Linked DNA regions of Homo sapiens: region 2 is linked to region 1. A link means that fine-mapping ties the variant in region 1 to the expression of a gene that starts in the linked region. Tissue or cell type: uterus. Region 1 holds a variant in brackets; the other region holds the start of a gene. All regions are shown on one strand. Distances are from middle to middle.

The links. PIP is the estimated chance that this variant, and not a neighbour inherited with it, causes the effect.
Region 2: it holds the start of SLC25A41, and the variant in region 1 is fine-mapped to the expression of SLC25A41 in uterus (GTEx, PIP 0.96).

What each region holds. Positions count from the first base shown.
Region 1 is chr19:5,638,286-5,643,432 of GRCh38, reverse strand. It overlaps SAFB (scaffold attachment factor B), which reads right to left. Exons shown (of 21, transcript NM_001201338.2): 3 at 1,775-1,839; 4 at 1,487-1,693. Among named protein-coding and RNA genes, the nearest start is that of SAFB, 18 kb to the right of the region's middle. The variant G/A (reference allele first, on the strand shown) is at 1,998.
Region 2 is chr19:6,430,825-6,435,971 of GRCh38, reverse strand. SLC25A41 (solute carrier family 25 member 41) reads left to right here and starts at 2,209. Exons shown (of 7, transcript NM_173637.4): 1 at 2,209-2,485; 2 at 3,768-3,923. The coding sequence starts at 2,279.

The sequences.
Region 1 (5,147 bases):
ATGACAATCTGCTACCTCTAAGGATACTTGGAATCAGTTCCAAGAGGAAATGCAAAAATATTCTGAAGAAATGCAGAAGCGGATTGACTGGCATACAACAAGGTTTCTGTCCACCAAGACTGCTTGAGAAGCACTCACTGCGGAAGACCTAAGGACCAGGACAAGAACAGGGCCCCCCACGAGCCAACACAGAAAGGGCCCCACAGCTTCTCATATGCATCACTTTTTCTGTCTGACAAACATTAATCATCAGGTAAATGAAATTAATATCAAATTAATGGCACCAAGACAACATCGTACATAAGTTAAGTACATGGCCTCTGGAATTAGCCTGATCTTAGTTCTTATTCTGTTATGAGCTGTGTGTCATCTGGAGATGTTTTTTAGTTCTTGCCTTCCCAATTTCCTCAACTGAAAATGGGGACAACAGCACCTCATGTTGCTATTAGAAGAATTAAAGGGCACATGCTGGGCGCGGTGGCTCACACCTGTAATCTCAGCACTTTGGGAGTCTGAGGCAGGCGGATCACCTGAGGTCAAGAGTTCAAAACCAGCCTGGCCAACATGGTGAAAACCGTCTCTACTAAAGATACAAGAAAATTAGTCGGGCTTGGTGGTGGGCGCCTATAATCCCAGCTACTCACTTGGGAGGCTGAGGGAGGAGATCACTTGAACCCAGGGGGCAGAGGTTGCAGTGAGCTGAGATCGCGCCACTGCACTCCAGCCTGGGCAACAACAGCAAAACTCTGTCTCAGAAAAAAAAAAAAAAAAAAAAAAAAAAGAAAGGAAGGGCATAATGCCAATGCCTGGTAGGTAGTATTCAGGAAATACTACCCACTATAATCTTACTATCCATTTGATATGTTTCTAACAGGAAAAAAATTTAGGTTTAAAAACAACATCCAGGTTAATACTTGAGGTTAACTCTTAAGATAGGTATCAACTGGCTGTGTTTTTTTTTTTGTTTGTTTGTTTTAAACAAGAGATAGGGTTCTGTCAGACTCTGCCACCCAGGCTGGACTTCAATTGCACAATCATAGCTTAGTACAGCCTTGAACTCCTGGGCTGCTCCTTCCACCTCAGCTTTCTGAGTTACCGGATTACATGAGTGCATCAAGGCACCCAGCTCAACAATTGCTTCTTAACAGGAAAACACCAACTTCTAACCTCTTCCTAGTTCAATGCTTTCAAGGTACCTAGGCCATAACACCACAGATCAAGTCCGGCAACAGGAAGAGTCTGAATGGTTGTCCTCAAAATGTCTCATACTGTATGCCGCAAATGGATAGCAAGTACATATGAAATGTTATAAGACATCACCTTTCAACAAAACAAATTGGTTCAGAATCATCTGAACCAACTGACCCTTATTCTACTGAACTGGCATTACAGAACAACTTACTTCCCAATATGAAACTGATCACCTATTTTAATTGTGGAACTGATACATTCAGGGCACATTCTAGAGACATTGCCGGTTACCTACAGCATGTTCCTGAAGCTGCTCCGGAAGCTCTTTCATTTCCCCCTCGACTAGCTCTCTACTATCCGACAGGGACTCCTGGAGGTTATCAGCATCATCGTCTTCGACACAATCTGCAACGCTTCCATTATCAATTTCTGCTTCATCCAACACACTGATATCCATGATGTCGATGTCCTGCAAGTTCTCCAGACTGGTCTCAACATCCTCCTGTGACACAACCAGACCGAACCATCATGTGACCGCCACTGGTCCATCCACCACGCTACTCACTCGCAAGGCTGCACATACCTGTCCATCCCCAGAGTTTTCCTCCAGCCCGTTATCTTCCACACCCTCTTCTTCTGGTTTGCGCCCTGAAGACAGAATCATTTACAGCATGAGATCAAATGATACGCACTTTACAGAAGCAACAATGCCCTGAGCACTACACAAGTGGTCACTTTATAAACATCTGAGACACCTCACTACTTAGGAACACTTCCTAATCCAGGAATGAGGCCATTCCGCACAA[G/A]ACAGCCCTGCCCCACCCCCAAGCAGAAGAGGTTCTGTTCTTGTCTGAGCTGTGGAAGTAGAAGTGCAGAAAACAGGTTCTTAGTAAAGTTGAACAGGATCAGACCTGTCCTCAGCTCTGCCCTTCTTCCTATCCCAAGTGTCCTTGTTTGAGGGAAAAATTATTTGTTGCAAATGTGCTGCCTTTTAGTTAAGGAACATGTTTTCCCACAGAAACTGCGCATGCCCGAGTATGCACATTTTTAATGCTTAAAAAGAAAAAAGAAGGGCCGGATGCGATGGCTTACGCCTGTAATCCCAGCACTTTGGGAGGCCTAGGCGGGCGGATCACCTGAGGTCAGGAGTTCGAGACCAGCCTGGAAAACATGGTGAAACCCCGTCTCTACTAAAAATACAGGACAATCACTTGAACCCAGGAGGCGGAGGTTGCACTGAGCCGAGACTGCGCCACTGCACTCCAGCCTGGGCAACAAGAGCGAAACTCGGTTAAAAAAAAAAAAAAAAGAAAAACAAAAAACCCACATACTATCAAGATACTCCAGAGGGGCTGGGCACGGTGGCTCATGCCTGTTAAGTCCAGCACATTAGGAGGCCGAGACAGGTGGATCACTTGAGGTCAGGAGTTTGACACCAGCCTGGCCAACCTGACGAAACCCTGTCTCAACTAAAAATACAAAAAACTAGCTGGTTGTGGTGGCGGTTGCCAGTAATCTCAGCTACTCAGGAGGCGGAGGCAGGAAAATCGCTTGAACTCTGGAGGTTTAGGTTGCAGTGAGCTGAGATCGTGCCGCTGCACTCCAGCCTGGATGACAGAGCAAGACTCTGTCTCAAAAACAAAACAAAACAAAACAAAAATTGCAGAGGAAGGTTTTTTTTTAACTTATACATTTCCATCAACAGCGAATTAAAAAGTGCCAATCTCGTGCACTTGTAGTCCCAGCCACTCGGGAGGCTGAGGCAGGAGAATCGCTTGAATCCGGGAGGCAGAGGTTGCAGTTAGCCGAGATCACACCACTGCACTCCAGTCTGGCAACAGAGCGAGACTCCATCTCCAGAAAAAAAAAAAAAAAAAAAAAAAGCCAATCTTTCTTGAATCTCTGTTAAAAATTTGCTATTTTTCTTTATCTTTGCCAATATGCTAGGTAAGAAAAGGAATACTGTTTTAACACGAATTTATCTCCTGACTACTCAAATTGCTTTGAATCATTTGCTTTTTGTTGTTGATCACCTGTACTTTTCTAAAAATTTCTGATTTACACCCCACTATTTAAAAACTTCGGCTCCAGCCAGGCGCGGTGGCTCACGCCTGTAATCCCAGCACTTGGGAGGCCGAGGCAGGCGGATCACCTGAGGTCAGGATTTCGGGACTAGCCTGACTGACATGGAGAAACCCTGTCTCTACTAAAAAAAACCAAAAAAACAAAAAACAAAATTAGCCAGGTGTGGTGGGGCATGACTGTAATCCCAGCTACTTGGGAGGCTGAGGCAGGAGAATCGCTTGAACCCAGGGGGTGGAGGTTGCGGTGAGCCGAGATCCTGCCGTTGCACTCCAGCCTGGGCAACAAAAGCAAAACTCCATCTCAAAAACAAAACAAAACAAACAAACAAAACACTTCGGCTCCATCCCCCATCATTTGAAGTTTATATATCATATGTACAAAACATATTTTCCCAGTTCTTTACCAGTTTTTAAATTTTGTTTACAGGTTTTGAGTACACTTCACTGTTCTTTTTTTTTTTTTTTGGGACGGAGTCTTGCTCTGTCACCCAGGCTGGAGTGCAGTGGCCTGATCTCAGCTCACTGCAACCTCTGCCTCCTGGGTTCAAGTGATTCTCCTGCCTCAGCCGCCTGAGTAGCTGGGATTACAGGCGCCTGCCACTACACCCAGTTAATTTTTGTATTTTTAGTAGAGATGGGGTTTCACCATGTTGGCCAGGCTGGTCTCAAACTCCTGACCTCAGGTGATCCACCTGCCTCAGCCTCCCAAAGTGCTGGGATTACAGACATGAGCCACCGCGCCCTGGCCCATTTCACTCTTATGTGGCCAAGCTATTAATTGTTTTTAAAATGTAAGTGGTTTATACCTTCATGCTTGGATGTCCTCCTCCATACTGAAGGCTAAATAATATACACCTGTATTTAGTTCTTTTGAAGTTTTAAACATTTATTCTCTCAGTTTCATGTTGAGTGAGACTATTTTCCCAATAGTTGTCCCATTTGGAAACTGATTTCCCAGCACCACTGACTAAATAGTACTTGCCCCCGACCAATTTGAAATGTTGGCTTCCGCAATATTATATTTGTATTTATGTCTGGGATTACTTGTTTCCATTCTCTTCCACTGATCTGTTATTTTTGTTCCAGTTTTAGATATGTGGCATTACCATGTTTTTCTAAATAGAAAATACTTGCCAGGCGTGGTGGCTCATGCCTATAATCCCACCACTTTGGGAGGCCAAGGCGGGTGGATCATCTGAGGTCAAGAGAAGAGTTTGAGAACAGCCTGGCCAACATGGCAAAACCGCGTCTCTACTAAAAATACAAAAAAATTAGCCAGGCGTGGTGGCAGGCGCCTGTAATCCCAGCTTGGGGAGGATGAGGCAGGAGAATCGCTTGAACCCGGGAAGTGGAAATTGCAATGAGGCGAGAACACACTACTGCACTCCAGCCTGGGTGACAGAGCAAGACAGACTGTCTTTAAAAAAAAAAAAAAAAAAAAAAGACTAAGATTAAGTATAAAAAAAAAGAAACTAAAAAACGATTGGAAGGTATGGCTTAACTCCAGGTTTTTCTTCAAGAGTTTAGTAATTTTAGGCTGGGCGTGGTGGCTCACACCTGTAATCTCAGCACTTTGGGAGGTCGAGGTGGGTGGGTCACCTGAGGTCAGGAGTTTGAGACCAGCCTGGCCAACATGGTGAAACCCCAGCTCTACTAAAAATACAAAAATTAGAAGGACATGGTGGCAGGTGCCTGTAATCCCAGCTACTCGGTGGGGGGGTTGACGCAGGAGAATCGCTTGAACCCAGGAGGCAGAGGTTGCAGTGAGATGAGATTGAGCCACTGCACTCTGGTGTGGGTGACAGAGACAGACTCCATCTCAAAATAAATAAAATAAAAAGAGTTTAGTAATTTTAAAAAATGTGAAAAACA
Region 2 (5,147 bases), 790 kb before region 1:
ATGGCTCACTGCAGCTTCAAACTCCCAGGCTCAGGTGATGCTCCCATCTCAGCCTCCGGAGTAGCTGGGACCACAGGCACACACCACCATGCCTGACTACTTTTTTTGTTTTTTAGAGACTGGGTCTTACTCTGTCACCCAGGCTGGAGTGCAGTGGCACAATCATAGCTCACTGCAGCCTCTAATTCCTGTGCTCAAGGGAGCCTCCCCCTTCAGCCTCCCAAGTAGCTGGGACTACAGGTGCACATGACCACACCTGGCTAATTTTAAAAAATTTTTGTAGAAAAATTTCTTGCTTTGCTGCCCAGGCTGGTCTTGAACTCCTGGACTCAAGTGATCCTCCCGCCTCAGCCTCCTGAGTAGCTGGGATTACAGGTATGCACCACCACACCCAGCTAATTTTCGTTATTTTTAGTAGACACGGGGTTTTATCATGTTGGCCAGGCTGGTCTCAAACTCCTGACCTCAGGTGATCCACCTGCCTTGGCCTCCCAAAGTGCTAGAATTACAGGTGTGAGCCACCACGCCCAGCCAAAAATAATTTTTAAAACTTAGCCGGGCGTGGTGTCCGCACCTGTGTTCCTAGCCACTCGGGTGGCTGAAGTGGGAGAACCACCTGAACAGAGAGGTCAAGGGGATTGACCTTAAGTGTGCCACTATACTCCAGCCTGGGTGACAGAGTGAGACCATTTCCCATCAGCTGTTTAGCAACCTTAATTCTTTTTTTTTTTTTCTTTTTTTTTTTTTTGAGACAGGGTCTCGCTCTGTCACCCAGGCTGGAGTTCAGTGGCAAGATCTCAGCTCACTGCAGCCTCCACCTCCCAAGCTCAAGCAACCCTCCCACCTCAGCCTCCTGTGTAGCTGGGACCACAGGCATGGACCACCATGCCCAGCTAATTTTTGTATTTTTTATAGAGACAGGGGTCTGGCCATGTTGCCCAGGGTGGTCTTGAACTCCTGGGCTCAAGTGATCCACCTGCCTTGACCTCCCAAAGTGCTGCTATTATAGGAATGAGCCACGGCGCCCAGCCTAGCAAAGTTTTGTTGTTGTTGTTGTTTGTTTGAGATGGAGTCTCGCTCTGTTGCCCAGGCTGCAGTGCAATGGCTCAATCTCGGCCCACTGCAACCTCTGTCTCCTGGGTTCAAGCAATTCTCCTGTCTCAGCCTCCAGAGTAGCTGAGATTACAGGGGCACACCACCAAACCTGGCTAATTTTTGTATTTTTAGGAGAGACTGGGTTTCACTATGTTAGTCAGGCTGGTCTCGAACTCCTGACCTCAGATGATCTGCCAACCTCGGCCTCCCAAAGTGCTGGGATTACAGGCGTCAGCCACCACATCAGGCCTAGCAACCTTATTTGTATCTGCAAACTTAATTCCCCTTTGCCATGTAACAAATGTAAGTCAGCCCAGGCTGCTATAAGGAAACACTAAAGAGCGGGGTCTTAAACTGCAGACATTTATTTCTGGAGGCTGGGAAATCCAAGGTTAAGGTGGCTGGCTAGCTCAGTTCCTGCTGAGGGATTTCTTCCTGCCATGCCTTCTTGCTGCGTCCTCCCATGGCAGACAGAGAGAGAGAAAGAGCTCTGGTTTGTCTTTTCCTTATAGGGAACTAATTCCATCTTGCAGGGGCCATCCTCATGAGTTCATCTAACCCTGAGGACCTCCCAAAGGCCCTGTCTCCAAATTCCAACCCACTGGGAAATAGGGCTTCAACATAAGAATTTTGCGGCCGGAAGCAGTGGCTCACGCCTGTAATCCCAGCACTTTGGGAGGCTGAGGTGGGCAGATCATGAGGTCAGGAGATCGAGACCATCCTGGCTAACACGGTGAAACCCCGTCTCTACTAAAAAATAAAAAAATTAGCTGGGCGTGGTGGCGGATGCCTGTAGTCCCAGCTACTCGGGAGGCTGAGGCAGGAGAATGGTGTGAACCCCAGAGGCGGAGCTTGCAGTGAGCCAAGATAGCGCCACTGCACTCCAGCCTGGGAGACTGAGCGAGACTCCGTCTCAAAAAAAACGATAATAATAATAATTTTGACAGGACACAATTCAATTTATAACGATAACATATTTATTGGTTTGGGGGATCAGGAGGTGGATACTTGGGGGAAGGGGGCCATCACGCTGCCCACCACACCTAGGAAGGTCACAGGGGCGTTTGTGACTTCATCCTCCTCTTGGTCCCCCACACAATCCTCCCACTAGACACTCCCGCATGGTAGCTGGAGCAGCAAACAACTGCTTAGGGATTTGAAGCCAGGTGTCCTAACTTCCTCCATGGGCGCTCAGCCTGGGGAACCTCAGAACACTTGCTCTAGGATCCAGACACTGTTTAGGAGGGTCAAGACCTTACTCATCAAAGCCCCGCCTCCCCCCCAACCTCCGCCTCCACCCCCATCCTGGAACCCTGGCTGTACACACGTGTATGGGTACGCGTTTGGCCACATGCATGACAACAACCTTGAACATCTCCCGTCACAGCAGGTGAGTTTAGGAAACACCAGTGTCCCGGCACCTCTGGTCAGGACTACAGGGAGAGGCCAGGCTACCCACGCCCTCTACAGGCCCACTCCCCTGCTAGCGGACCTAGAATTCCACCTTGAAGCAGGGTGGGGCAGGGAGGCAGGGCGCGATGGCTCCACACATGTAATCCCAGCACTTTGGGAGGTTGAGGTGGATGGGTCACTTGAGGACAGGAGTTCAAGACCAACCTGGCCAACATGCCGAAACCCTATCTCTACTAAAATTACAAAACTTAGCCAGGCATGGTGGTTGGCGCCTGTAGTACCAGCTACTCAGGAGGCTGAGGCAGGAGAATCGCTTGAACTCAGGAGGTAGAGGTTGCAGTGAGCCCAGATCTCATCACTGCACTCAAGCCAGAGCAACACAGCGAGATTCTGTCTCAAAAAATAAGAATAAATTAAGAGTCTAGATATAGTCCTAATTACATTTGTATTCCTCCTTGGATCCTCCATGAGTAACTTAGAGAGTCTATATTACATTGGCTGGGTGTGGTGGCTCACACCTGTAATCCCAGCACTTTGGGAGGCTGAGGCAGGTGGATCACCTGAGGTCAGGAGTTCAAGACCAGCCTGGCCAACATGGTGAAACCCTGCCTCTATTAAAATAATACAAAAATTTGCTCGGCACGTTGGCACTGTAATCCCAGCTACTGGGGAGGCTGAGGCAAGAGAATCACTTGAACCCAGGAGGCGGAGGTTGCAGTGAGCCGAGATCACACCATTGTCCCTACTTGGGAAGCTGAGACACGAGAATCGCTTGAACCAGGGGGACAGCGGTTGCAGTGAGCCAAGATCGCACCACTGTACTCCAGCTTGGGCGATAGAGTGAGACTCTGTCTAAAAAAAAACAAAAACAAAACAAAAAAAAACCAGGGGGGAGGGTTGAATCACTTGAGGTCAGGAGTTAGAGACCAGCCTGGCCAACATAGTGAAACCCATCTCTACTAAAAAAAAAAAAAAAAAAAAAAAAAAAAATTAGGTGTTGTGGTGCATGCCTATAATCCCAGCTACTCAGGAGGCTGCGGCAGGAACTGCTTGAACCTGGGAGGTGGAGGTTGCAACGAGCTGAGATTGTGCCACTGCACTCTAACCTGGGCAGCAGAGCAAGACTCCGTCTCGAAAAAAAAAAATGCAGACTTGGGGGAACAGGGTGGGTCTTTCACCAGGTGGGTGCCCTAGATGTGTGTCTGGGGAAGGTGCCCCAACCTGGCTGAGGATGAGGGAGGGCCGGGTCTGCCCTGCAGGTACTGGACACAGGAGAGCAGCTGATGGTCCCCGTGGAAGTCCTGGAAGTGGATAACAAGGAGGCCTTGTGGAAGTTTCTACTCTCAGGAGCTATGGCCGGGGCGGTGTCTCGCACGGGCACGGCACCTCTGGACAGAGCCAAGGTGTACATGCAGGTTTGTGTGGGTTGGGGGGAGGACGGGACCCAGCGCTGGAGCCACTGGGGAGAACGTGGGGTGAGGACAGATGGAGTTGACGTGGATGGAGTTCAGGATAGGAGTGCTGGCTGGAGTTGGGCTCTCCTGGACTAGCTGAGATTGAGGTTGTGGATGGTGATAGAGCTGGTGTGGACATGGCTTGGAGTCGAGTTTGAGGAGTTGAGAGAACTTGCCAGGGACAGGGACCAACGCTGGGCCAAGGTGGGGGTTGGAGGTCAGGGAATTGGGGATGGGGTCTTTGGACGAGTTTAAAGACAAGGTAGGGGCCAGGTGCAGTGGCTCATGCCTCTAATGCCAGCACTTTGGGAGGCCCAGGGGAGGTAGATCATCTGGGGTCAGGAGTTTGAGACCAGCCTGGCCAACATGGCGAAACCCTGTCTCTACTAAAAATACAAAAAAATTAGTCGGGCATGGTGGTGCGTGCCTGTAGTCCCAGCTACATAGGAGGCTGAGGCAGGAGAATTGCTTGAACCCAGGAGATGGAGGTTGCAGTGAGCCGAGATTGCATCACTGCACTCCAGCCTGGGCAACAGAGTGAGACTCTGTCTCAAAAAAGAAAGAAAAAAAAAAAAGGCAACATAGAACTGGAGCTACCTCAAGCAGGATATCTCACACCCATAGTCTCAGCTGCTCAGGAGGCTGAGGCAGGAGGATTGCTTGAGCCCAGGAGTTGGAGGCTGCAGTGAGCCATGATCATGCCACAAACTCCAGCCTGGGTGACAGAGCGAGATCCCTGGCTGAAAAAATAAACGGGTGCAGTGGCTCACTTTGGGAGGCCAAGGAGGGAGGATTACTTGAGCTTAGGAGTTTGAGACCAGCTGGGCAATATAGTCAGACCACATCTCTACAAAATAATAATTAATTAATTAATTAATTAAAAATTTAAAAAGGAGTCGGGCATGGTGACTCACACCTGTAATCCCAGCACTTTGGGAGGCCAAAGTGGGAAGATCGCTTGAGCCCAAGAGTTTGAGACCAGCCTGGGCAACATAGTAAGACCCCATCTATACAAAAAATTTTACAAAATTAGCCTGCCATGGTAGCACGCACCTGTAGTCCCAGCTACTTGGAAGGCTGAGGTGGGAGGATCACTTGAGCCCAGGAGTTTGGGGCTGCAGTGAGCTGTGATTGCACCACTGCATTCCGGCCTGGGCAACAGAACAAGATCCTGTCTCGAAAACA